Regions from separate parts of the Homo sapiens genome. Here regions 2, 3, 4 and 5 are each linked to region 1. Evidence: fine-mapped expression QTL. A gene starts in region 1. Each other region holds a variant in brackets. All regions are shown on one strand. Distances are from middle to middle. Region 1 holds the start of DHX34 (DExH-box helicase 34). Region 2 overlaps NAPA (NSF attachment protein alpha). Region 3 has its middle 3.8 kb from the start of ZNF541. Region 4 overlaps DHX34 (DExH-box helicase 34). Region 5 has its middle 25 kb from the start of MEIS3.

Region 1 (5,100 bases):
TAACAAAGACCTGGCCAGTCTTAGTAGTCTACTCCCCCTCTAACCAAGGATTGGCCTGAGAAGCGGACACATGATCCAAGAAGGGCCAATCAGGGCCCTTTTGTGGAATTTACACTCGGTTGCTAGGACAGAAAAGCTCTCATTTTATCCATCATAATCAGGCAAGTTTGATATAAGCCTGGAGCTCTTTGTGGTAGCTCTGGAACATGACAGAGTCTTTCCTAAAATCTATCCTAGAGAAATAACTAGATACAGGCACAAGAATGGTCACTGCACCACAGGGAGAGGTGAAAGAGGGAGAGGAAGAGAAGCTTGGCAACATCATTTAGGTCTTGAAGCTTAGTTCCCTTCAACCCCCCACTTCTCAGCTACACCAGAAAATGCCTTTTTGCTTACAGTTGGAGTCTTTTTTGTTTTGAGATGGAGTCTTGCTCTGTCACCCAGGCTGGAGAAAAAAAATTAGCCAGGTGTGGTGGCGGGCACCTGGCTACTCGGGTAGTCCCAGCGACTCGGGAGGCTGAGGCAGGAGAATCACTCGAACCCTGGAGGCAGAGCTTGCAGGAAGCCAAGACTGAGCCACTGCACTCCAGCCTGGGCAACAGAGCGAGACTCTGTCTCAAAAAAAAAAAAAAAAAAAAAAAAAGAAAAAGAAAATGAGAGCATTCTTCTGAGGCTAGAAACTGCTTATGCATGCTGGGCCCCACTGACAGCATCCCGCTCCTCTCAAGGTATCTATCTTTTTTGGCTTCTAGATTGTCTGCATCTTCTAGTTTCTGTATAACTGTGTCTCTGACCATCTTTTGGTCTCTTGGCCTATTTGCCCTGGGCTCATGGCCTTCAGTGGGTTTGTTTCCCCCTCTGTCCCCTCCATCTCTCTCCACTCCATCTTCAGGCCTCTGTCTCTTTTTCAGTCCGTCTTGTTCATCATCACCCTCATCTCTCTTCCCTGTCCTAGTCAGCTCGCATCTCTCTTCACTTATGAGTCATTCTGTAGTCTGATTTTTCTCTGTAATCCAACTCTTCCTTTCTCCATCTCTCTTCAGTTCTCCATTTGACTTTCTCCATCTTTCTCATTAAAAAAAAAATGCTTTTTCAGGCCGGGCATGGTGGCTCACGCCTATAATCCCAGCACTTTGGGAGGCTGAGGCAGGCAGATCACCTGAGGTCGGGAGTGCGAGACCAGCCTGACGAACATGGAAAAATCCCGTCTCTACTAAAAATACAAAATTAGCCAGGGTGGTGGCACCTGCCTGTAATCCCAGCTACTCTGGAGGCTGAGGCAGGAGACTCGCTTGAACCCAGGAGGCAGAGGTTGCAGTGAGCCAAGATCGCACCACTGCACTCCAGCCTGGGCAACAAGAGCGAAACTCCATCTCAAAAAAAAAAAAAAAAAATTCATTTTTGTTTTTTTGAAACAGGGTCTCACTCTGTCACCCAGCCTGAAGTGCAGTGGCACAATCACGGCGTACAGCAGCCTCGACCTCCCAAGCTCAAGTGATCCTCCCACCGCAGCCTCCCAAAGTGCTGTGGATGACAGGAGTGAGTCACCACGCCCTTTCTCATTTTCTGTTTGAATCTTTTTTTCCTCCCTTTTGTCCTTCCAGTATTCACTCTCCATCACCACCTCTCTCCATTTCCCCATCTAATACTTTATCTCCCAATATCAGAAGCTTTAGTAATAGCTCATGCTTACTTACTCACATTAACACACAGACCTATCCTATCTGCATGATCTATTCCTATCCCACACCTATGTACATACACACACACACTTTTCTCACGACTGTCAGGCACTATGATCACCCCCTATTTTACTGAGCAATAGAGAGGCTAAGTGAGTAGCCGAGTGTTACATGAGCCACTCAAATCCAGGGGTTCGGGCTCCACTCCCTCGCTTTTCCATTTCTCAGCATCGTTCTCCATTATCTCCAGCTTTTGTGGGGTTCTTCCTATTTCAACTGTCTCCATCCTTCCGTATCTCTCGGTCTCCCCCGTGATTCAGTGTCTCGTTTCTCCATCTAAATTCCATTTTTTCTGTTTCTAGTGTCCACGATCAGTTTCCGACTTTTCCCTCCACTCCCCAAGTTCATGGGCGACCACGCCTCTCGGCCTCGTGGGCTCTAAGACTCTCGCTGGAACCCATCGGCACTCTCGCCCACGCTCTCTAGTTTTCAGCTTCCCTCCTCTCCCAACACCCTCGTCTTTCAGTCCCTCAGTTTCTCGAAGCTTCTTTTCGTGCCTCCATTTCTTTCGGTCTCTGGCCTGTCGCCCAGGTTCTCCCAGGGACGCTCAGGTGCCATCTCTGTCCGCGTTTGCCGGCCCTTCGGCTGCCTCCTACATTTCTCCTCATCTCGAGACTTCCCTCGCCCCTGGACTCGCACCCCAAACTACCCCCAAGCGGCCCAACTCCGACAGCCATCGCCGCCACAACCCGGTACACCCGTCCCGCCCCCCTCACTTACCACACGCCGCGAACGCCTTAACTTCCGGTCCCAAGAGCGCTAGTCTTGCGCCTGCGCACACAGCCATCTCGTTCTGACCCCGCCCCGCCACCACAGAAGAGCCAATCGGAAGCTCTGGGCTGCCCAAGACCCATCTTGCGCCTGTGCACAGCACGCTTCCGCCCCGCCTCGCTTGGGGCGGAGCCTCGAGTGATTGCGCCCTCTAGAGGCCAGTAGAGGCATTGCGGTACAGACTTGCAAGCGCCTCCTCCCCGGCCCCGCCCTCTCCTCCCCAAGCATAGCCACGTGCGCCTCAGCTCCGGGACGCCGGGGTTTTAACCCAAAGAGAGAGCTGGTCTGGGGCCCAGGAACTTTTTTTTTTCTTTTGAGACATAGTCTCACTGTCTCCCAGGCTAGAGTGCAGTGGCGTTATCTCACCTCATTGCAATCTCCGCCTCCCAAGTTCAAACCATTCTCCTGCCTCAGCCTCTCGAGTAGCTGGGATTACAGGCGCACACCACTACACCTGGCTGATTTTTGTATTTTTAGTAGAGACGAGGTTTCACGATTTGGGCCAGGCTGGTCTCCAGCTCCTGATCTCAAGTGATCCGCCCGCCTTGGCCTCCCAAAGCACTGAGATTACAGATGTGGGGCATCTCACTCAGCCTCTACCTCTTTTCTTTCTACAACCCCATTTTCTGTTACCTTTCTCTGCAATAAACTCAATCACACACATTCAGGAAGACCCCCAAGTATAGAAACAATCTCATTAGCCAGCAATGCACCCTCTCTTTTATTAACTGAAAGAAGAAACAGCTGGGCACGGCGGCTCACGCCTGTAATCCCAACAGTTTGAGAGGCCGGGGTAGGTGGATCACCTGAGGTCAGGCGTTCCACACCAGCCTGGGCAATATGGCCAACCCCTGTTTCTACAAAAAAATACAAAAGTTAGTCGGATATGGTAGTGTGTGCCTGTAGTCCCAGCTACTCAAGAGGCTGAGGTGGGAGGATCGATTGAACCTAGGAGGCTGAGAGACTGAGGCTGCAGTGAGCCATGATGGTACCACCGCACTCCAGCCTGGGTGACAGAGCCAGACTGTCTCAAAAAAAGAAAAAAGTGTTGTTGTTTTTTTTTTCTGAGACGGAGTCTCGCTGTCGCCCAGGTTGGAGTGCGGTGGCGCGATCTCGGCCCACTGCAGGCTCCGCCTCCCAGGTTCCCGCCATTCTCCTGCCTGAGCCTCCCGCATAGCTGGGACTACAGGCGCCCGCCACCACGCCCGGCTAATTTTTTGTATTTTTAGTAGAGACGGGGTTTCACTGTGTTAGCCAGGATGGTCTCGATCTCCTGACCTCGTGATCCGCCCACCTCGGCCTCCCAAAGTGCTGGGATTACAGGCATGAGCCACCGTGCCTGGCCAGAAAAAAGTTCTATGTCTAAAAAAAAGAAGGACTCTAAAGTTTTTGGCCTGAGCATTTGGAAATATGGAGTCACCATCTACTACCATCAGGAAGACGTGGGAGAGAGGCTAGAGAGAAAATCCGAAGATCTGTTTTCAGCATATTGTTTGAGTTATGCATTGGACATCAACTGGGGATGTCAAGTGGAACGTTGGATATAATTATCAAGCCTCTGGAAAACAACTTAGAGATAGAGAAGCCAATTCATACATTATTATCAAAAGAAGAAGAATAAATGGACTAAGCATTCTGCTTAAAATTTCCAAACAAGGCCAGGTGCGGTGGCTCACGCCTGTAATCCCAGCACTTTGGGAGGCCGAGGCAGGTGGATTACCTGAGGTCAGGAGTTCGAGACCAGCTAAGCCAACATGATGAAATCCCGTCTCTACTAAAAATATAAAAAATTAGCCAGGCATGATGACGGACACCTGTAATCCCAGCTTCTCGGGAGGCTGAGGCAAGAGAATCGCTTGAACCCAGGAGGTGGAGGTTGCAGTGAGCCAACATCGCATCATTGCACTCTAGCCTGGGCGACAAGGAGAAACTCTGTCTCAAATAAACAAACAAACAAATAAATAAATAAATAAATAATCCAAACAATAATTATAATTTTTAAAAAAGGAAAATTGGAGGAAATGAACAACAAATGGAAATCAACAAGAAAGCCACAGTCTATCAACCATAGGATTGTATAGCAAGCTTGAGACTAGTTCTTAGAGAAATTATTAATAACTTGGTTCTTTGAAAACTTAAGGAAATCAATATTTCTATGGTAAAAAAACAAATAGCAGAAATAGACAAACTTTAGAACAAAAAAGGGAAGTTATAGCAAAACAGATGGCTTTTAATAATCAAAGGTATTTTATGTAACATTGCACAGACTTAAATTTGAAAATTCCCGTGAAATGTATTCCAGTTCAAAAAAGAAGGGCTAATGATCTACAAAATGAAAACATTTCAAAAACCACAAAAGATGTTTTGTAAAAGTTATCAAAGAATGCTCCTAAGTGGCAACTGGTCCCAATAGATTAATGGGAGGATTTTGCAAACTTTAAGCCCCAAAGCGGGGTTTTAGCCCACGAGGGTTCTTGGCTTTGCCCAGAAAAGAATTCAAAGGTGAGCAGGGGCAAGGCAGGGGAAAACAGCTTGCTTTCTTTCCTTCCTTCTTTCTGTCTTTGTGTCTTTCCTTCTTTCTTACTAT
Region 2 (5,100 bases), 160 kb before region 1:
CAGTAAGTGGGAGAAGTGGCATTCAAACCCAGTTCTGTGTGATTCCAGAGCCTTCTCACTTAGCCCCTTTGCTGTGCTACCACGGTAGTTTCTCCTCAAGGTTCATGACCATCTCTGGGCACTACATTTAGGAAGGATGTTGGCAAACTAGGTGTGTTGGAGAGCTGCCACCCTCTTAACTGTCCTCCCATGGCTGTTTTCTCCAAATATGTGAAAAAAAGAGCTGGTGTGTTCATCTCAGTTCCTTCCAGCTCCCAGAGGAGCTGACCTGGTGCTGTGGGAGTATGAGTGAGGTTAGGGCAGAGGGCAGGGAGGATGGGAGGCTGGCCTGACCGGAGCTTGTGTGCCTGGGAGCTGGGAGCACAGCCAGAGGCCAGCTTGGGAGGACCTGCTTGGCGGGCGGGAATCACTCAGGCACCTCCTCCTCTCTGATCTGGGTTTGCTTGTGTTCAACATTTCATAACCCACCTTTATTCAAGGTCCTTGGTAGCTGCCGGGACTGGAGAAGGGAGCGTTGCGGCTCAGCTTGTCCTTGGTGCCTCTCCCTTCCCCTTTGGGAACCCCAGCAATGACAGCATCCCACATTGAGGGGCCTCTGCCCCTGTCAAAGGGCAAGTCAGAGAGCCCGCACCTGGGACGCAAGGCGATGGGTGTCTGTGCTGTCGCCTGCCTTGGTGCTCAGATGCCACCCTTGCTCTTCATTATTTCTGGGCTGCCAGACGCTAGGGGGCTTTGATGCACCAGCAGCCACTGAAGGCGACAGCACCAGCCAGTTAGGAGAAGCTCAAAGCCATACCTGTTCCTCCCCTTGGTGATGGGGGCGCAGCTCAAACTTCTGCTCTGGAAGCAAAAAGACGGAGACTTCCTAACTACAGCACAGTGAGCCAGCAGCAGAAGGGGATGGCTGAGTCCAGGCACACTAGTTCCTCCTCCCTGCTGCGTGTCTCCTGGGGAATCCAGAGTGCCTGCTGTGCCGTTTGGGGATCCTGCAGGTTCTGAATGGCGGCTCTGTTCCCTGGGGCTTTTCCTCATCCCTGATGTTTCCCAGCCACCTCCCCTGTCCCCAAAATAGCCAAAATAAAAACTTCCTTCCTCTTGGATACAAACGTGTAGAGGGAGTTTCTTCATCTGTGAAATGAAAATCATGGTAACTGTTTCCTCAGGTGGTTTTAAGGATAAATGAGACGATGTGTGGGAAGTGGTGGGAGCACGTTGCCTGGCTCTGCTAATGTTTATTAAGGGCTCACTGTCATCTTTATTAGTAGGTATTGTCATTGGAAGTTGAGCTAGAAGTGCTGGAGAAATAGGTGGCAGAGGGTGTTCTGTATACAAACAGTGCATTCCTAAGATCAGATCTTGACAAATCAGTTCCTGTTTGAACTACCTGTAGGCAATAACGGCGGGACCCTGGGAGGGCCAGCTTGTCTGTACAGGGCCTGCCCAGGGCCTTGGCTGAGACTGGTGTGGGCACGAGCTTCCAGATTTCTCTCCAGACCGCCTTCCTCTGCAGAGCGTGCAGAAACCCCGGCGCCATTTCCAGTGGGCACCCTGGTGAATCACAGTGCCCTGCCAGCTGCCAAGATCCACAACTGAAAACTTGGCATCTCTTGCCCAGTCTCAGAGTGGAGTCTTTCCTGAGGGCACACAAGGTTTCTGGGGAATCCGAGAGTTCCTGGCTTTCCTGATGGATAGGACTTTGCTGCCTGGCCATACAAACATTTCCGTCTCCTTTTTGGGATGGGGCTACTGAGAGGCAAGGGTCTTTGAGAACACCTTTTAAGAAAAAGGAAGTACATTCGCCCTTGGTCTGTGGTGAAATGTAATCCCGTTGGGGTGCAGGAGGGCATCCGTATAAGAAAATAAGAAACAGGGCGCCTGCCAGGCTGTGTGC[C/T]GTGTGGCAGGTGAGATCCTGGCTCTGAGCTCATCTCGAAGGGCCGTGGGCCTGTATGTATTTTGAGCATTGTGCAGTAAGGGGTGGGGCATGGGAGGCCAGGACTCTGGAAGCCGAAGGAGGAGCATTACTTAGCTAATCTGGGATGGAGATGAAGCCCATGCTGCTATTCTGAAGTAGGGAAGCGTGCCTGGAATCGGTCCTCTGCGGGGCCTGATGAGAGGGATGCTCTCGTTTACTGAACGCCCGTGGTGTGGCCAGCTCTCTGCTGGGCACGCCGTGGGGTGCTGCCTGCAAGATTGCTCGTGCTTCAGCAGCCCTGCAAGGTGTGGAGTCTTATGCCTAGTTACACATAAGGAAACGCAGGCTGGCACACGATGAGCTGGCGCTGAGGCCAGGCCTGTCTGACTACTGTCAGCATTTATTTTATTTTATTTTATTTTATTTATTTTATTTTATTTTATTTTATTTTATTTTATTTTATTTTATTTTATTTTATTTTATTTTTACCACCACAAGAAACTCTCTAGAATTCCCATTCCTGGGTGGCAGGCACCCCTTTGAGCGTATTTCTCTTCCTTTGTGTAATAGCAACCATTGAGCACCTTTTCCATTCTGCGCTCTGTGCCAAGTATTGACTATGTGTCATTTCTAATCCTCACAAAGACTCCTCCCAGGCCAGATTCATTGTCTCCATTTTATTTCATTTTTCATTTTTTGAGAGACAGGGTCTTGTTCTGTTGCCCAGGCTGGAGGGCAGTGGCGCGATCATAGCTCATTGCAGTCTCAACCTCCTGGGCTCAAGTGATCCTCTCACCTCAGCTTCCCAAGTAGCTGGGACTGTAGGCATATGCCACCATGCCTGGCTAATTTTTAGTAGAGTTGGGGTCTCACTGTGTTGCCCAGGCTGGTCTCAAACTCGAGATCAAGCAACCCTCCTGCTTCGGCCTCCCAAAGCCCTGGGATTGTAGGTGTGAGCCACTGTGGCCAGACATGCTGCCATTTTGTAGATAAAGAATGGAATCTCAGCACTTTGGGAGCAGAGGCAGGAGGATTGCTTGAGCCCAGGAGTTCGAGACCAGTGTAGGCAACACAGGGAGACCCCATCTCTTATTTAAAAAAAAAAAGCCTCAGGGATAACTAGCCCCAGGTCGAACACTTAGCAAAGTACCTGAAACGGACTTCAGCCCAGGTCTCGCCACCCCAAAGTCATTCTCTTTCTACCCCTTGTCTTTGCCCAGACAGGCATGTCACAAGAGGGTCCTGTGGCGATTTCAGAGCTGGGCAGTTAGCCTGTGACACTTTATTCTTTCACCGTTGTTAACTGGGGCTTGTGGAGAGATGGGAAAGCAGAGCTGGGCTCAGGCCCCGCCCTGCAGGAACTCATACTCTGCTTGGTCAGGCAAGGCCCACTGCAGAGTGGCGGGAGGCAGCTGGTGGTTTCCCGCTTCCAGGTGATACTGGTGGCGGTGCCTTCAGGATGCTGAGCCTCTGGCAGCTCCCAGCTCCAGTGCAGTCAGTGGACTAGCAGGGCTGGTGGCCCCCGGCTCCCTGTGCCAGGGTGGACCCTGCACCACAGGCAGCCTTAACTTTTTCTGACGTTCCTTCTGCCTGTTGGCTTGTTACTGGCAGGCTCGGTAGGGGGCTGGCTTAATTCATACTCCTTTGCCTAGAGGATGCTCCACGCAGCCCCAGCAGAGAGCAGCCTCTGCTCGTGAGATGAGGGAAGCCTAGGCAGTACAGGCTCCCTGGCTTCTTTAATCTAGAGGAGGGGTGGGGGCAGGCAGGGACCTTGTCCTCCCTCCTTATTTTCCCAAGGAGCCTTGGGCATGGGGAAGGAAGCCTTCCTGATCACTGAGTGAGAGGCAAGGGCAGGACTGGATCCCCAGGGCCCCAGTCCTCTTTCCAAGCCCTGCTGCTTCCTGGCAGGGTAAGCTTGGACAAGCCCTCCGCCCTCTCTGAGCCCCAGCTTCCTCGCCTGTAAAGCAAGGGCAGCACCCAAAGGGCTCTCGTGAGGAGCTGTGGGCTCCTTCCAGGGGAGTGCCTGGGAGGCAGGGAACGCCATGCGCCAGCCGTGATTAAGGCACATGGTCTCGAGAGCCGTGCAGGAGGTGGGCTTACAGGGAAGACACAGGCATGTGACGGGCCCTAGGACACCTTCCCCACTGAGGGTGCTGACTGGAGACTTGGGGCAGTGGGCCTTAAGTCTGAGGAGGAAACCGTAGGCCTGTGGCTGTGGCTTCCACAGAGGCAAGAGAGATAGAGTGAGTCCAGGACCCGAAATGGGGGCCTGACTTTGTCCACCCTGCCTCGTGAGGTCCTTCGGGAGCTGCAGGTGGTGGGTCTCAGGGCATGGTGTATTTCTGGCAGCCAGGAAGTGCCTGGTGGATGGAGGAAGGAAGGAGGGGGCTAAGACTCTGCCCTGCACAACCCCCTGGCCCAGGTCCCATCAGGCATCTGTGTATTCCTGGCAGTGCCCAGCCTTCCATATGGCAGTCCCTGAGGTTGGTGGCTGTGTTTGGGAGACCTGAGACTCCTTCCTCCGCCTTGGAGGGGGAGAGAGCAAAGCTGAGCGGGTAATTATAGACAGCCCTGCATCAGGCAGCCCAAACCAGTTCCCTCTATTCCCGGAGTGGCTCAGAGCCGTGGGATGGGAGGAGTGAAGCAGAGGCAGCTTGGGGGAGGTCAGTGGGGGAGGGACAGTCAGCTGTCACATGCGCTGCCACCCAGGCCCTCAGGAGAGGAGGCCCAGCTAGATTTTCCTTTCGTGTACTGTTGTTATCTCCTGGCACGTAATAAATGCTCGGATACCTGTTCCCCAGGTGAATAAATGTGTATGTGAATGGCTTCTTCAGGATCTTCCACTGGAACCTAGGCACGTCACTTTCCCCCTTTGGGGACTTCACTCCCATTTCTAAAAGAAGAGGATGGGACCCTGGAGATCTCCTGTCATCCCCTGGCCATGGTAATGGGCAAGACCGCGGGGTGCAGGGGAAGAAGGAGGCAAGCCTGGGGCCTGAGCAGGTGTTAATCCCTCTGGCCTTTCCACCCCACAGAATCATTGACCCCGTGCAGGGTTGGCTGTGCTTAGCCTGGGATCACAGAGTTTCAGCCCGGGCAGCTGGTAGGCTTTGTGTCCGTCCTGAAATAAACCCGGCTGGGCTGACTCTGCTCATTGTTGATTGCCCGCTGTGGGCCACTCAGTGACG
Region 3 (5,100 bases), 230 kb before region 1:
TGGGAGGCGGAGATTGCAGTGAGCCCAGATGGCACCACTGCACTGCAGCCTGGGCGACAGAATGAGACCCTGTCTCAAAAAAAAAAAAAAAAAAAACACACACACACAAAACAGGCGGGGTGCAATGGTTCATGCCTGTAATTTCAGCACTTTGGGAGGCTGAGGCGGGCGGATCACCTGAGGTCAGGATGAGTTCTAGACCACCCTGGCCAACATGGTGAAACTCCGTCTCTACTAAAAGTATAAAAATTAGTTGGGTGTGGTGACGGGCGCCTGTAATCCCAGCTACTCTGGAGGCTGAGGCAGAACCTGGGAGGCGGTGGTTGCAGTGAGTCAAGATCATGCTATTGCACTGCAGCCTGGGAGACAGAGCCAGACTCCATCTCAAAAAAAAAAAAGGCTGGGCGTGGTGGCTCACGCCTGTAATCCCAGCATTTGGGAGGCCGAGGCCGGCAGATCACGAGGTCAGGAGATCGAGACCATCTTGACTAACACGGTGAAACCCCATCTACTAAAAATACAAAAATTAGCTGGGCGTGGTGTCGGGCGCCTGTAGTCCCAGCTACTCGGGAGGCTGAGGCAGGAGAATGGCGTGAACCCGGGAGGCGGAGCTTACAGCAAGCTGAGATTGCGCCACTGCACTCCAGCCTGGGCGACAGAGCGAGACTCTGTCTCAAAAAAAAAAAAAAACCCCAAAAAGTGGATACATTACTATTAACTAAATTCCAATCTTTGTTGAGATTTTTTCTTTTTTTTTTTTGAGACAGTCTTGCTCTGTTAACCAGATAGGAATGCAGTCCTGAGCTAAAGCAATCCTCTCGCCTTAGCCTGTGGAGTAGCTGGGACCACAGGTGTGTGCTACTATGCTTGGGTAACTTTTAAAATTTTTTCGTAGAGACAGGATCTCACCAAGTTGCCCAGGGTGGTCTTGAACTCCTGAGCTCAAGTGATCCTCCTGCCTTGGGGTCCCAAAGTGCTGGAATTACAGATGCCTGGCCTTTGTTGGAGATTTCTCTAGTTTTTTAAGTAATGTCTTTTTTTTTTTTTTTAGATGAAGTCACTGTCACTCTGTTTCCCAGGCTGGAGTGCAGTGGCACCATCTCAGCTCACTGACAGCAACTTCCACCTCCCAAATTCAAGCGATTCTCCTGCCTCAGCCTCCTAAGCCTTAGCTGGATTACAGGTGCCTACCACCATGCCCAGCTAATTTTTATATTTTTAGTAGAGATGGGGTTTCACCATGTTGACCAGGATGGTCTCAAATTCTCGACCTCAAGTTATCCACCTGCCTCGGCCTCCCACAGGGCTGGGATTACAGGCGTGAGCCACCATGCCTGGCCTATTTATTTATTTATTTATTTATCTTGTTCCAGGATTATTCAATCCAGAATCCAGGATCCAATCTGTTTCTTTCCTTTCTTTTCTGTTCTTTTTTTTGCTATTACAAACATTGCTGCTTGTTCTTCTGTTGCATCTCTTGGCGCACATGATCAAGAAGTTTTCTAGAGTTAACCCCTGGGTTTGTCAGTGTGGTTCTACCAATTTTACCTGTCACTAGTCCTGTATACTCAGTTCGTCTTGCTTCAGCAAACAGAAAAAAAAAAATGTTTTTTGATTCACCGAAGTGGTAGGTGTGCTGCGGTATCTTTGGTTTTAATTTGCATTCTCTTGTTGTTGTGGTTAGTCCTCACTTCATGTTTCCTCTTGTATGAAGTGCCTCTTCAAATCTTATATTCTTTTTTTTTATTAGGTTGTCACCTTAATTTGTAGGCCTTTAAAATAAATGCTAAATGCTTTTTTTTATTTGAGACAGAGTCTCGCTCTGTTGCCCAGCCTGGAGTGCAATGGTGCGATCTCGGCTCACTGCAGACTCAACCTCCCAGGTTCAAGCAATTCTCCTGTCTCAACTTCCTGCGTAGCTGGGATTACAGGCACGCACCAGCACACCTGGCTAAGTTTTGTATTTTTAGTGGAGATGGACGTTTCACCATGTTGGCCAGGCTGGTCTCGAACTCCTGACCTCAGGTGATCCACCTGCCTTGGCCTCCCAAAGTGCTGGGATTACAAGCATGCTTGGCTAATGCTAATTTTTTGTTTATGTGTTGCATTTATCTTCTGTGTCCATGAAGTGTTCAATGTCTATCAATGACAGAAGATGCTAATTTATTTCAGGAGCTTAAGTCCTGTTTTTTAACTA[G/A]ATTCTCATCTGTCCAGTGGCTAGGATCCTTATTTCCTCCATCAAGAAGAGAGATTACATGGCTGAAACAAAGCATTTTTAAAATGTGTGCTAAATAAGCGAAAAAAAAAAAGAAAACAAGAAAAAGAAAAGAAGGCCAGGCACAGTGGCTCTCACCTGTAATCCTAGCACTTTGGGAGCTGAGGCGGGTGGATCACGAGGTCAGGAGATGGAGACCATCCTGGCTAACATGGTGGAACCCCGTCTCTACTAAAAATACAAAAAATTAGCTGGGCGTGGTGGCACGAGCCTGTAATCCCAGGTACTTAGAAGGCTGAGGCAGGAGAATCACTTGAACCCAGGAGACAGAGGTTGCATTGAGCCGAGATGGTGCCACTGCACTCCAGCCTGGGTTACAGAGCGCGACTCTGTCTCAAAAGAAAAAAAAGAAGAAAAAGAAAAAAGAAAAAAAGAAAGAAAATAAAAGAAACAAACAAAAAACCCCACAAAACAAAAAGTGTGCTAAATAAAGGAAGAACCCTCTGAAATTGTTTCCAGGAGTTTAATTCCTGCCTTAGCATGACCTGTAAGTCCCTATGCCATCTGCCCCTAGTTTCTTCACTCACGTGGTTCTGGCCACACTGGTCTCTCTTCTTCTGATTTTTTTTTTTTTTTTGAGACAGAGTCTCACTCTGTTACCAAGGATGGAGCACAATGGCGTGATCTCGGCTCACTGCAACCGCTGCCTCCCAGGTTCAAGAGATTCTCATGCCTCAGCCTCCCGAGTAGCTGGGACTACAGGTGTGCACCACCATGCCCAGATAATTTTTTGTATTTTTAGTAGAGATGGGGTTTCAACATGTTGGCCAGGCTGGTCTCGAACTCCTGGGCTCAAGTGATCAGCCTACCTGGGCCCCCCAAATTGCTGGGATTACAAGCATAAGCCACCATGCCTGGCCTCTCTGCTGTCTTTCAAAAGGGTTCCACATCTTCCTGCCTCAGTGCCTGTGCACGTGCTGTTCCCTCTCTTCTTCCCCCAGATATTTTCATAGGACCCTTCCTTACTTCCTTCAGATCTCTGCTCAATGCAATCTCACCAGAGAAGCCTTTACTGACCTGTATAAAACAATACCCTCTGACCCCATCCTCTTTCCTTTGTTTTTCTTCAAGGTATAACATACTGCATTATAAATGTATTTGCAGCCAGGCACGGTGGCTCACTCCTGTAATCCCAGCATGTTGGGAGGCCAAGGCAGGAAGACTGCTTGAGCCTAGGAGTTCAAAACCAGCCTGGCCAACATGGCAAAACCCTGTCTCTACTAAAAATACAAAAAATTAGCTGGGTGTGGTGGTGCAGGCCTGTAGTACCAGCTACTCAGGAGGCTGAGGTGGTATAATAGCTTGGGCCCAGGAAGTCAAGGATGCAGCGAGGCATGATTACAACAATGCACTTCAGCCTAGGTGACATAGTGAGACCCTGTATCAAAAAAATACAACAAAAAAAGTAAATGCATTTGCTTGTCCCCCTGTAGAGGTATGCTGTCAGTACCAGAGCCACTCGCTACAAGGTTCCATGGAGCCCTGGAAATGTGGCTGGTCTGAATTGAGATGTCCCGTGAATGTAAAATACTGTATATGTGGGGTTTTAAAGACAGCCCCAAAAGTGTAAATTATCTCTTAGTTTTTATACTGATAATGTGTTGAAATATTTGGGATTAAATATTACCAAATTAATTTCACTTGTGTTTCTTTCTCTTTTATTTTATTATTTACTTTTATTTATTTGATTTTTAGGTTTGGGTGTGTTGCCCAGGCTGGTCTTGACCTCCTGAACTCAAGCAATCCTCCTGCCTCAGCCTCTCAAAGTGTTGAGATTACAGGTGTGAACCACCACACCCGTCCCAAGCCATTTTTTTTTTTTTTTAAGAGAATGGGTCCCACTATGTTGCCCAGGCTGGTGCAGTGGCTCTACACAGACAGGGCCATAGCTCACTGCAGTCTCCAACTCTTGGGTTCAAGTGATCCTCCTGTCTCAGCCTCACAAGTAGCTGGGCTACAAGTGCCAGCCGCCACACCTGCCTTCTTTACATTTTGTTCCTTTTAAACATGGCTACTAGAAAATGTAAAATTACATAAGTGGCTGGTGCTTGAAGTTTGCATTTTATTACTACTGAACAGCACTGCTCTAAAACATAAGTTCCAGGAGGAGAGGAATGTCTGTTTGACCCAGACACTATATCTGAGCACCTAGAACAGAGACCCAATAAAAACTTGCTAAATGAAGGGATCCTAAAGCAAGATGACAGGCCCTCTTCTTTCCTCTGTTTCCTCCCCCAATAATCAATTAAAAAAAAAAAAAACTTTGAGGTATAATTTACATAAAAGTCACTCACTTAAGTGTATACTTACTGATTTTTAGAAATTTACTGAGTTGTGCAACCATCACCATAACCCTTTTTTTCCCCCATCAGAGTCTCGCTCTATCCCCCAGTCTGGGGTGCAATGGCCTGATCATATAGCTCACTGCAGCCTTGGACTCCCAGGCTCAAGCGATCCTCCTGCCTCAGCCTCCCAAGTAGCTGGGACTACAGGCGCATGCCACCATCTCCAGTTAATTTTTTTTTTTTTTTTTTTTTAGAGACAGGGTTTCACTAGGTTGCCCAGGTTGGTCTCAAACTCCTAGGCTCAAGGGATCCTCCTACCTTGGCCTCCCAAAGAGCTGGGATTACAGGCGTGAGCCACCACGCCTGGCCCATAGCTCAGTTTTAGAATATTTCCATTACCCAGATAAGATCCGCGATGCCCCTTTCCACCCCGGGCAACCACTAATCTGCTCTCATTCTCCACAGATCTTCAGCACTCCGTTTCTAAGGAATGAATTATCTGCCTCAGTTGCAGGACAGTTCAAACCCCTTGGCCAGGTC
Region 4 (5,100 bases), 32 kb before region 1:
CTGAACTCCTATTTAGGGTTTTTGTCTATGTTCATAAGGCTTAGAGTTTTCTTTTCTTGCATTGTCATAGCCTGCTTTTAGCAGCAGGATAATGCTGACCTCATAACATCAGTCAGGAGGCGTCCTCCCCTATGCTGTGGCCAAGTGGGTGTGGGCGAGTATCATTTCCATGTTTGGTAGACGTCACCAGGGAGCCCATCTGAGCCTGTTCTCTTTGTTAACTATGAATTACATTTCCTTAATAGAGTTGTTCCGGTTATCTATTTCTTCCTGAATGAGCTTTGGGTAGCTAGTGTCTTTCAATAATTTTTTCCATTTCAAATGAGTGAATTTCTGTGTGGCACGTTGTTTATCGTATTCTCTTCTCCTTTTCGCATCTGTAGGACCTACAGGTTGTCCTCCTTCCATTCCTATGCCGTGCCTTCTTTTTCTCCTGAGTGATTTTATTGTTCTTTTCATTTTCTTTTTTTCTTTTAGAGATGGAGTCTCGCTCTGTCACCCAGGCTGGAGTGCAGTGGCACGATCTCGGCTCACAAGCAACCTCCGCCTCCTGGGTTCTAGCAATTCTCCTGTCTCAGCCTCCTGAATAGCTGGGATTACAGGCACACGCTGCCACGCCCAGCTAATTTTTTGTATTTTAATAGAGATGGGGTTTCACCGTGTTGCCCAGGCTGGTCTCAAACTCCTGAGCTCAGGCAAACCACCTGCCTCAGCCTGATTTTTTTTTTTTTTTTTTTGAGATGGAGTTTCACTCTTGTCGCCCAGGCTGGAGTGCAATGGCATGATCTCAGCTCATTGCAACCTCTGCCTCCCAGGTTCAAGTGATTCCCCTGCCTCAGCCTCCCCAGTAGCTGGGATTAAAGATGCCCACCACCACACCCAGCTAAGTTTTTGTATTTCTAGTAGAGACAGGGTTTCACTATGTTGGCCAGGCTGGTCTCGAACTCCTGACCTCAGGCGATCCACCCGCCTCAGCCTCCCAAAGTGCTGGGATTACGGGAGTGAGCAACCATGCCCGGCTCAGCCTGTTCTTTTATTTTTTTATTACGGGAGTGAGCAACCATGCCCGGCTCGGCCTTTTATTTTTTTATTGTGAGTGGGTCTTATGGTGCAGCCTGTGGTCCCACGTGAACACCAGTGCTCCCAGCCCCCCTGCACAACTCTCAAAGTGACCCAGGTGGATGGGCAAATTCAGGGTCCCCCTACTTCAAGGGGTAGGAGAGACTGAGGATGGACTCAAGAGAGAGCGGCTGCGGAGGTGCTAAGAACCTGCACCTGGAATCTGGAGACATGGGAGGTCCCTGCTGGCTCTAACGCCCCTCCTACCCAGGACCCCTCAGGCAGCACCCTGCAGCAGGAAGAAGGAAAGCTAGACCCTGGGGAGGACTAACAAGGCAGCTGCTGCTTTCTGGATGGGCAGGTGCAGGCCTAACAGTGTGTATCAGCATGTGAGGCTTTATTCACAATCCGTGCTCCAGGCCCTCTGCACTGGGACAGGACCACAGGGCTAAGCCCAGGCTGGGGGTTCAGGCAAGAGTCCTGCCCCTAGTCCTGGGCTGGAGGGCAGGTCAGCTGCACGGAGGTGGGCAGGGCTCCTGGCCCAGCTCACACGTGCTGCTTCCGGTGGCGCAGCACCTCTGTGGGTGTAAAGAGGAAGTCCTTCCCGCAGGCCTCGCAGTGGTAGGGCCTCTGCAGGACAGATGTCTTCTGGAGGGTTTCGAGGGCAGCTTCCTCAGCCCCTAAGGGAGGAAAAGGAGGAGGCTGTGAGGGGCGTGTTCCAGTGCACAGGTCTACCTGCACCCAAATGCCAGGCACCTGTGGGGCTCAGGTTCTCTCCTGGCCTTTGGAGAACCCAGTTTTGCCTCCTCCAGGAAGCCCTCCCAGATTAATAAAAATACACAGGTCTGTCTTTACTCCGCATCCCTGCCAGTGAGAGAGACAGAGAGAAAGACACAAGGAGAGACATGGAGACTGAGAGGCAGACACAGCCAGCCGGGGATGGAGGCATGTGGCCCCAGTGCTATCTCCCCCACTGAACCCCAGTGTGTGGCATCCCTGGGTGACAACAGGGTGGAGGTGACCAAGGCAGAGATAGCTGCAGGACAGAGAAAAATAACAAGAGACATAGCCACAGAGAGACAGAAACAGAGACAAAGACAGCAACACAGAGACACCACAGGGGACAGGCAGACAGAAAGAGGTGGCGCTCCAGGCTCTCCCTGCCTTGGGCTCCTGATCTTCAGGACAAGGCCTGTGTGTGGCACCAGCCAGGGCCAGCGGGTGGAGGTCGTCAGTCCTCGAAGCTCTAGCAAGTGCTCACACGCACAGGAGACCATCATGGGATGGGCAGACGGCTGGGCAGAGGTGGCCGGGTCCCCACAGTCCTGTGCTTACCTGGGGGCCCATCCTGTGGGGCCTGGGGGCAGGTGTTCTCATGGGCGATGCGCTCCAGGGGCGTGAGGGGCGCATGCAGGCCACAGTGGGGGCAGGTCCAGAAGGTTCGGAGACAGTC[G/A]CTGTACAGGTCTGTGTCATTCTGTGGCAGGCCAGCTGTCAGGGCTGGGCCCCCGCCAAGTGCCACCCACCACCCAAGTGCCCCCCCGGGACCCTTCCCAGAAGCCCTCAGGGCCACGGGCCCCACTTGGGAACTATGTCCCTGGACTAAGGTGAAACGGGGTGGTGGGGTCTTCCTGAAATCCCACCTTCAGGGAAGGAGGGTTCATGCTTACCGTGAGGCAGTTGTAGGTGAGGAAGTCAGTGACTGCGTAGCCCCCCTTTGTGGGGTGGGGGGACAGGGTGGAGCTGCCAAAGAGGCCAGGAAGATGGGGGGTGGCTGGGATGGTCTGGGGTCCCACATACATGTTCTGGACTTCTAGCCCTGTGAGCCGCCGGAGGCTGTAAGGAATCTAAGGAAGGAGAGACAGGAAATGGAGAGAGACAGACTCAGGGAGATGCCGCCAAAGCACCTGGATCCAGCTGTGCCTGAAGCCCTCCCTCGGGCTTTGCAGTTACGGGAGCCAAGTGCTTACACCAATCACAATTTGGCTGCAGACACACATGACCAGGGGTCTGTCTAGAATATACCTGATAACCCACCCCCATCTAAATTGCCCTCCCCAGGCCCCTCTTCTGCCCCTGTCACTGGTGGGACCCCATTCAGACCTTGAGTCTAACCTTCAAGTCTGGCCACCTCCCCCCTCCTCCTCCTAGCATGTCAGCCTTGGTCCCCTCTCCATGGCTCACTGGGTTCCTGCTCCTTTGTCCTCAAGCCCTTCTACTCCAGGAAGTCAGCCTGGATTGTACCCTTCTCCCCACCCCACCCACATGAAGTAGAACCACGAGCAATTTCCACTCCCCACCTAAGAGTCAGGGGCTGGTTTCAAGTCTGCTCAGTTCAGTTCTTCCCATCCACAAGCAGACGTCTACGGCTTCCCTCTCACACCCTGCCTGTCCTTTACTGTTAGCAAGAGGGGATCAGCCACGCTTGCAGAAGGTGCTTAGTAAACAAGGCAGCAGTGGGTAGTGTGGCCTCTGGAACCAGGCTCCTGGGATCAAATCCTAGCTCCACCCAGACCAGTGGAGTGACCTTGTGTAAGTGACTGAACCTCTGTGGCCTGAAAACCCCCAAATGTGCCCATGTGGAGTGAATGGGAAGCCAGGCCTTCCCGAGGCTCAAGCCCAGTGACGGATGCCCCTTCTGGCCATAGGGAGGCACGGGCACCCTGGTGGAGGGTACCTTGGATGCCGTGAATTGCAGGAGTTCCTTGCTCAGGGTGGCCACCTCCTTGGGGCTGACTGGCGTATCCTCCTCCTCCTCCTCCAGCTGCTGCTGGGCCTGGTGCGCCAGCTGCCGGTCCAGGGCACTTTCCCAGCGGGCACGGAGCCGCAGGGAAGCCGCCAGGAGTCGGATGGCACTTTCACTGTCTGCTAGCTGCAGCTCCAGCCAGCCATCGGCCACCAGGCGGGAGCAGTCACCATTGGTGTCCAAAGACCGGCTAAAAAGCAGGAGGGACTGAAAGAGAGGGGGCAGAAGACAGGGAGTAGGTGGGAGGGGCAGGGCGCTATTGGAGACAGGCCCTGCCCGGCTGGGCTCCTGCCCACCCACCAGCCCTGTCTATGTGAGGCATCCACCTACCCGCCATCTACCCGCTGTACCAGGCACCCCTTCGGGTGCTGGGGATACGGCATGAACAAGGCAGCCGCTGAGTCAGGGAAGGGGGCTGGGGTGGCGGGGCGGCAGATGGGAGCGTGCTGGGAGAGAGACAGCTGCATTCTCAGGCAGGGTGGCAGAGGGACAGCAGGCACTCAGACACACACGACGTGCAGGGAGAGCCCAGACCCTGAGCACACGCTCCTCTGTGAGGACGGAAGTCAGCGCTGTAATTACCAGTGCTGTGGCTCATAAGATGTTGGGGAAAATCCTCAGGGCTGGGGCCAGGGCAGAGGAAAGGGCAGGACTGGCCATGCGTGGATGGTTTGGGGACCGGGGATGGTACAGGAGGGCTCCATATACTGTTCTGCCTGCTTATGTGAATGTGAAGTTTCTCCATCTTCTTCTTCTTATTATTATTATTATTAATTTATTTATTTATTTGAGATGAGTCTCACTCTGTTGCCCAGGCTGGAATGCAATGGCGCAATCTTGGCTCACTGCAACCTCCACCTCCCAGGTTCAAGCGATTTTCCTGCCTCAGCCTCCCTAGTAGCTGGGATTACAGGCACGCGCCACCCACCCGGCTAATTTTTGTATTTTTAGTAGAGATGGGGTTTCACCACATTGGCTAGGCTGGTCCCAAACTCCTGGCCTCAACTGATCCACACACCTCGGCCTCCCAAAGTGCCGGGATTATAGGCGTGAGCCACCATGCCCGGCTTATTATTTTTTGAGACAGTGTCTCACTCTGTCACCCAGGCTGGAGTGCAGTGTCAACAATCACAGCTCACTGCAGCCTCAATCTCCCAGGCTCAAGCAATCCTCCTGCCTCAGCCTCCCGAGTAGCTGGGATTACAGGCACACAACACCACGCCCAGCTAACTTTTTAAAATTTTTTGTAGAGATAGATAGAGTCTCCCTATGTTGCCCAGGCTGCCTTTGAACTCCTG
Region 5 (5,100 bases), 45 kb before region 1:
GGAGTAGTAGAACAGCAGATGGAACACTGAGAAGTGATTTCCTTGAGGACAGATTTCCACGATGGAAAGAAAATGAGAGGTTCTAAGAGGCGGGCTAGTGGCTTGTACTATAGCATAGCCTGCCTTTGCTGGTGTGTGGCGATTAGGCCTGGTGGAACTGCCATCAGTAAATCAAGCGTGATCAGAGTGAGGAACAGGAAAGAAGGAAATATGGGGAAATGGGGTGAATATCAGGTGGATCAGAGAGATACAGTCATGGGGGTCAGGTGTGGTATCAGGAATAATGTGGGAGGCCAGATTGAAGTCCGGGCCAGGAACAATGGTAATTGTGGGACTTAAGAGTGAGTGCAGCTGAAGGAGCCGGGGAGCAGAAAGTACATGCGTCAGGTATGAGGAAGAAAATAGATTTTGGAAGTTATGAGAAATGTAGAGAGTGAGTTGAGCATAGTTTGTGATTTTTAGGGCCTCTAAAAGTATTAAAGCAGCGGCAGCCGCTGCACGCAGACATGAGGGCTAGGCTAAAACAGTAAGGTCAAGTTGTTTGGACAGAAAGGCTACAGGGTGCGGTCCTGGCTCTTGTGTAAGAATTCTGACCACACTAACCATGCCTAGGAAGGAAAGGAGTTGTTTTATAAGGGATTGAGGTTTGGGAGATTAATTGGACACGATCAGCAGGGAGAGCACCTGTGTTTTTATGATAATTATGCTGAGATAGGTAACAGATGAGGATGAAATTTGGGCTTGACTGAAGTAATGGGGGCTGTCTGTGAAGCCTTGCGGCAGTACAGCCCAGGTAGTTTGCTGAGCCTGATGGGTGTCAGGGTCAGTCCAAGTGAAAGCGAAGAGAGGCTGGGATGATGGGTGCAAAGGAAGAGTAAAGAAAGCATGTTTGAGATCCAGAACAGAATAATGGGTTGAGGAGGGAGGTATTGAGGATAGGAGAGTATATGGGTTTGGCACCATGGGGTGGATAGGCAAAACAATTTGGTTGATAAGGCACAGATCCTGAACTAACCTGTAAGGCTTGTCTGGTTTTAGGACAGGTGAAATGGGGGAATTGTAAGGGGAGTTTGTAGGCTTTAAAAGGCCATGCTGTAGCAGGAGAGTGATAACAAGTTTTAATCCTTTTAAAGCGTGCTGTGGGATGGGATATTGGCGTTGAGCGGGGTAAGGGTGATTAGGTTTTAATGGGATGGTGATGGGCATGTGATCGGTTGCCAGGGAAGGAGTAGAGGTATCTTATACTTGTGGGTTAAGGTGGGACACAAGAGGAAGACGCGAAGGAGGCTTTGGGTTGGGAAGAAGGGCGGCAATGAGATGCAGCTGTAGTCCAGGAACAGTCAGGGAAGCAGATAATTTGGTTAAAATATCTCGGCCTAATAAGGGAACTGGGCAGGTGGGGATAACTAAAAGGAGTGCTTTAAAGAGTATCGTCTAAGTTGGCACCAGAGTTGGGGAGTTTTAAAAGGTTTAGAAGCCTGGCTGTCAATACCCACAACAGTTATGGTGGCAGGGAAACAGGCCCTTGAAAATAAGGTAATGTGGAGTGGGTGGCCTCCATATTGATTAAGAAGGGGACGGACTTACCTTCCACTGTGAGAGTTGCATGAAGCTTGGCGTCTGTGATGGTCTAGGGGGCTTCCGAGGCGATCGGGCAGCATCAGTCTTCAGCCGCTAAGCCGAGAAGATCTGGGAAGCAGTCAGAGAGCCTTGGGCCAGAGCTTTAGGGGCTCTAGGAGTGGCTCCTGGGTGAGCTGGGCAGTCTGCCTTCCAGTGGGTCCCTGCACAGATGGGACATGGCTTGGAAGGAATCCTGGGCTGTGGGCATTCCTTGGCCCAGTGGCCAGATTTCTGGCACTTGAAGCAAGATCCTGATGGAGGAAGTCTTGTAGGAATGCTTGACTGCTGCTGCTTAGGCATTTTGAAGTTCTTGTAGCTGGAGGTATGGCTGGGTTTTGTCTCACAGCAGAGACAAGTAATTGTAACTCAGAAATGCGTTGCCATCTGGCTGCTTCCTCTCTATTATTGTACACCTTGAAGGCGAGGTTGCTTAATTCCTGTTGTGGGGTTTGAGGGCCAGATTCTAATTTTTGAAGTTTTTTCCTAATGTCAGGAGTGGACTGAGTGATAAAATGCATATTAAGAATAAGGCGGCCTTCTGGCCCTTCTGGGTCTAGGGCGGTATAGCGTCTAAGTGTTGCTGCTAAGTGGGCCACGAACTGGGCTGGGTTTTCCTCTTTACCTTGGGTAGTTTCTTTAAGTTTGTCATAATTAACAGCTTTGTAAGCTGCCTTTTTAAGCCCTTCAACTAGGTAGGAAACCATGTAATCTCACCTAGCTATACCTGGGGAATTTGCCTGA[T/C]AGTTCCATTGGGGACCCTCTCGGGGAACTGCTCTACTGCCTTCCTGGAGGTCTGGCTCATGAAGCCGGCGGTTATCAGCGTGAGATTGGGCTAGAGAAAAACTCTTTCCCACTCATCTGGGGAGAGGGCAGAAGTCAGGATGATATTAAGTCACTCCAGGTTAAGTTGTAGGACAGAGTTAGATATCGGAATTCCTGTATATGTTTAGTGGGGTCTGATGAGAAAGAGCCTAAACGCTGACTCACCTGAGAGAGGTCTGATAGAGAAAAACGTACATGTACCCTGACTGTGCCTTCAGCTCCAGCCACCTCTCTAAGAGGAAATTGTTGGGCAGGTGGGGAAGAGCTAGTCGTGGAACTAAACTGTAAGCTGGACAGGGTGTGAGGACACCCTGGGTGTGAGGACGACAGAAGGATTATCGGGTGGAGGAGCGGAGGCTGAGGAAGAATTGGGACTTAGCTCGGCCTGGCGAGGAGGGGAGAGGTCAGATGGGTCTGTAGAAAAGGAAGACTGGAAAGACTCAGCGACGCTTGGGGTTGGGACTGAGGGGACAGGCGGGAGGGAAAGAAGGAGGATTTGGGACGAGTTGCATTGGGAACAGAGACTAGAAAGGGACCGATGTGTAAAAGAATACCTGGACGTCAGGCACCTCAGACCATTTGCCCATTTTTTGACAAAAAATATTTAGGTCTTGTAGGATGGAGAAATCGAAAGTGCTGTTTTCTGGCCATTTAGAGCCATTGCCCAGTTTGTATTGGGGCCAAGCGGTGTTGCAGAAGAAAACAAGGGGTTTAGGTTTTAGGTCAGGTGTGAGTTGAAGAGGTTTTAAGTTCTTGAGAACACAGGCTAAGGGAGAAGAAGGAGGAATGGAGGGTGGAAGGTTGCCCATAGTGAAGGAGGCAAGCCCAGAGAAAAGAGAGCATAGAGACACGGAGGGAAGGGGTTCGGGGGTTCTTACCCTCCAGAAAAGTGGGAAAGGGGTCGGGATGTGGAAATAAGGGATTGGGGGTTCTTGCCCCCTAGAAAAGGTGGAGAAGGGGTAGAGACACAGAAGGGGTTGGGGTACTTGCCCCTCCCCCAGAAAAGCGGGACTTGCCGCTAAGGGTGAAAGACCAAGGCAGGCATCCCTGCGCGGTCTGACACCTCTGAAACCTGGGTGAATAATCAGAGAGGTGTCCCTGCAATGATTAAACACCAAGGGAAGGCTGCCTTCCCAGTCCGTGACCGGCACCGGAGTTTTGGGTCCACAGATAAAACGTGTCTCCTTTGTCTCTACCAGAAAATGAAAGGAATTGAAATTAAGAGAAGGGAGAGATTGAAGTGTGGTGCCAAGATTGAAAGGAGAAAGAGGTTGAGGGATAGTGAGGGAGGTTGGAGAAGAGAGTAAAAAGAGGCCGCTTACCGGATTTGAAATTGGTGAAATGTTTCTTGGGCTGGTGGGTCTGAGGACCTGAGGTCACAGGTGGATCTTTTCTCACGGAGCAAAGAGCAGGAAGACAGGGGATTGATCTCCCAAGGGAGGTCCCCTGATCCGAGTCATGGTACCAAATTTTATGCGCGTCCATGTGAAGAGACCACCAAACAGGCTTTGTGTGAGCAATAAAGATGTTTATTTCACCTGGGTGCAGGAGGGCTGAGTCGGAAAAGAGAGTCAGTGAAGGGAGATAAGGGTGGGGCCGTTTTATAGGATTTGGGTAGGTAAAGGAAAAAGGGGGGTTGTTCTCTGGCGGGCAGGAGTGGGGGGTCACAAGGTGCTCAGTAGGGGAGCTTTTGAGCCAGGATGAGCCAGGAGAAGGAATTTCACAAGATAGTGTCATCAGTTAAGGCAGGAACAAGCTATTTTCAATTCTTTTGTGGTGGAATGTCATCAGTTAAGGTGGGGCAGGGCATATTCACTTGTTGTGTGATTCTTCAGTTACTTCAGGCCACCTGGGCGTATACGTGCAAGTCACAGGGGATGTGATGGCTTGACTTGGGCTCAGAGGCCTGACAAGACTGAACTAGGGTTGGGATTGTGTGACAAGCTGGTCTCTATCAACCGTGTCTGTGTCCACGGCATTGTTGTGTTGCGATCGCGCTCCTCCTAGGTCAGAACTTACAGTGGGAGTTTGGGAGGCCGAAGTGGGTGGATCACCTGAAATCAGGAGTTCAAGACCAGCCTGGCCAACATGGTGAAATCCTGGCTCTTTACAAATACAAAAATTATGGTGGGCACGGTGGCTCTCGCCTGTAATCTCTGCACTTTGGGAGGCCAAGGCAGGCGGATCACTGAGGTCAGGGGTTCGAGACCAGCCTGGCCAACAAGATGAAACCCCATCTCTACTAAAAATACAAAACAATTAGCTGGGTGTGGTGGCGGGTGCCTGTAATCCCTGGCTACTCAGGAGGCTGAGGCAGGAGAATTGCTTGAACCTGGGAGGCGGAGGTTGCAGTGAGCTGAGATTACGCCACTGCACTCCAGCCTGGGTGGACAGAGCAAGAATCGGAAAGCCTGACTCCAATGGGGATAATTGGATCTCAGGGTGGCAGGGACCAAGTGACAGAACTTAATGACCAAAGGCAAGGTGGGTGGTTACCGCTTGGACAGCAGAGTCAGAGCAGCCACCAGAGTGCTATGACTTGGCCGGGCGGTGGTTCATGCCAGTAATCCCAACACATTGGGAGGCCCAGGTGGGAGAATCTCTTAAGGCCAGGAGTTCGAGACTAGCCTGGGCAACATAGTGAGACCTGTCTCTACA

Evidence for each region.
Region 2: its variant is fine-mapped to the expression of DHX34 in whole blood (GTEx, PIP 0.94).
Region 3: its variant is fine-mapped to the expression of DHX34 in cerebral cortex (GTEx, PIP 0.99).
Region 4: its variant is fine-mapped to the expression of DHX34 in whole blood (TOPMed, PIP above 0.99). The same link has a PIP of 0.9 or more in cerebellar hemisphere.
Region 5: its variant is fine-mapped to the expression of DHX34 in nucleus accumbens (GTEx, PIP above 0.99).

What each region holds. Positions count from the first base shown.
Region 1 is chr19:47,346,715-47,351,814 of GRCh38, reverse strand. DHX34 (DExH-box helicase 34) reads right to left here and starts at 2,500. Exons shown (of 17, transcript NM_014681.6): 1 at 2,463-2,500. C5AR2 (complement C5a receptor 2) reads right to left here. Exons shown (of 2, transcript NM_001271749.2): 2 at 4,486-5,100. RefSeq lists an enhancer at 1,756-2,660.
Region 2 is chr19:47,506,588-47,511,687 of GRCh38, reverse strand. All of the region lies in intron 1 of NAPA (NSF attachment protein alpha), which reads left to right. Among named protein-coding and RNA genes, the nearest start is that of NAPA, 5.9 kb to the left of the region's middle. The variant C/T (reference allele first, on the strand shown) is at 1,892.
Region 3 is chr19:47,574,392-47,579,491 of GRCh38, reverse strand. No RefSeq gene overlaps it. Among named protein-coding and RNA genes, the nearest start is that of ZNF541, 3.8 kb to the right of the region's middle. RefSeq lists an enhancer at 1,538-1,617. The variant G/A (reference allele first, on the strand shown) is at 2,198.
Region 4 is chr19:47,378,619-47,383,718 of GRCh38, reverse strand. DHX34 (DExH-box helicase 34) reads right to left here. Exons shown (of 17, transcript NM_014681.6): 14 at 3,734-4,009; 15 at 2,727-2,903; 16 at 2,395-2,533; 17 at 1,015-1,739. The coding sequence ends at 1,606. Among named protein-coding and RNA genes, the nearest start is that of DHX34, 32 kb to the right of the region's middle. The variant G/A (reference allele first, on the strand shown) is at 2,513.
Region 5 is chr19:47,392,083-47,397,182 of GRCh38, reverse strand. No RefSeq gene overlaps it. Among named protein-coding and RNA genes, the nearest start is that of MEIS3, 25 kb to the left of the region's middle. RefSeq lists enhancers at 3,581-4,228, 4,229-4,875. The variant T/C (reference allele first, on the strand shown) is at 2,362.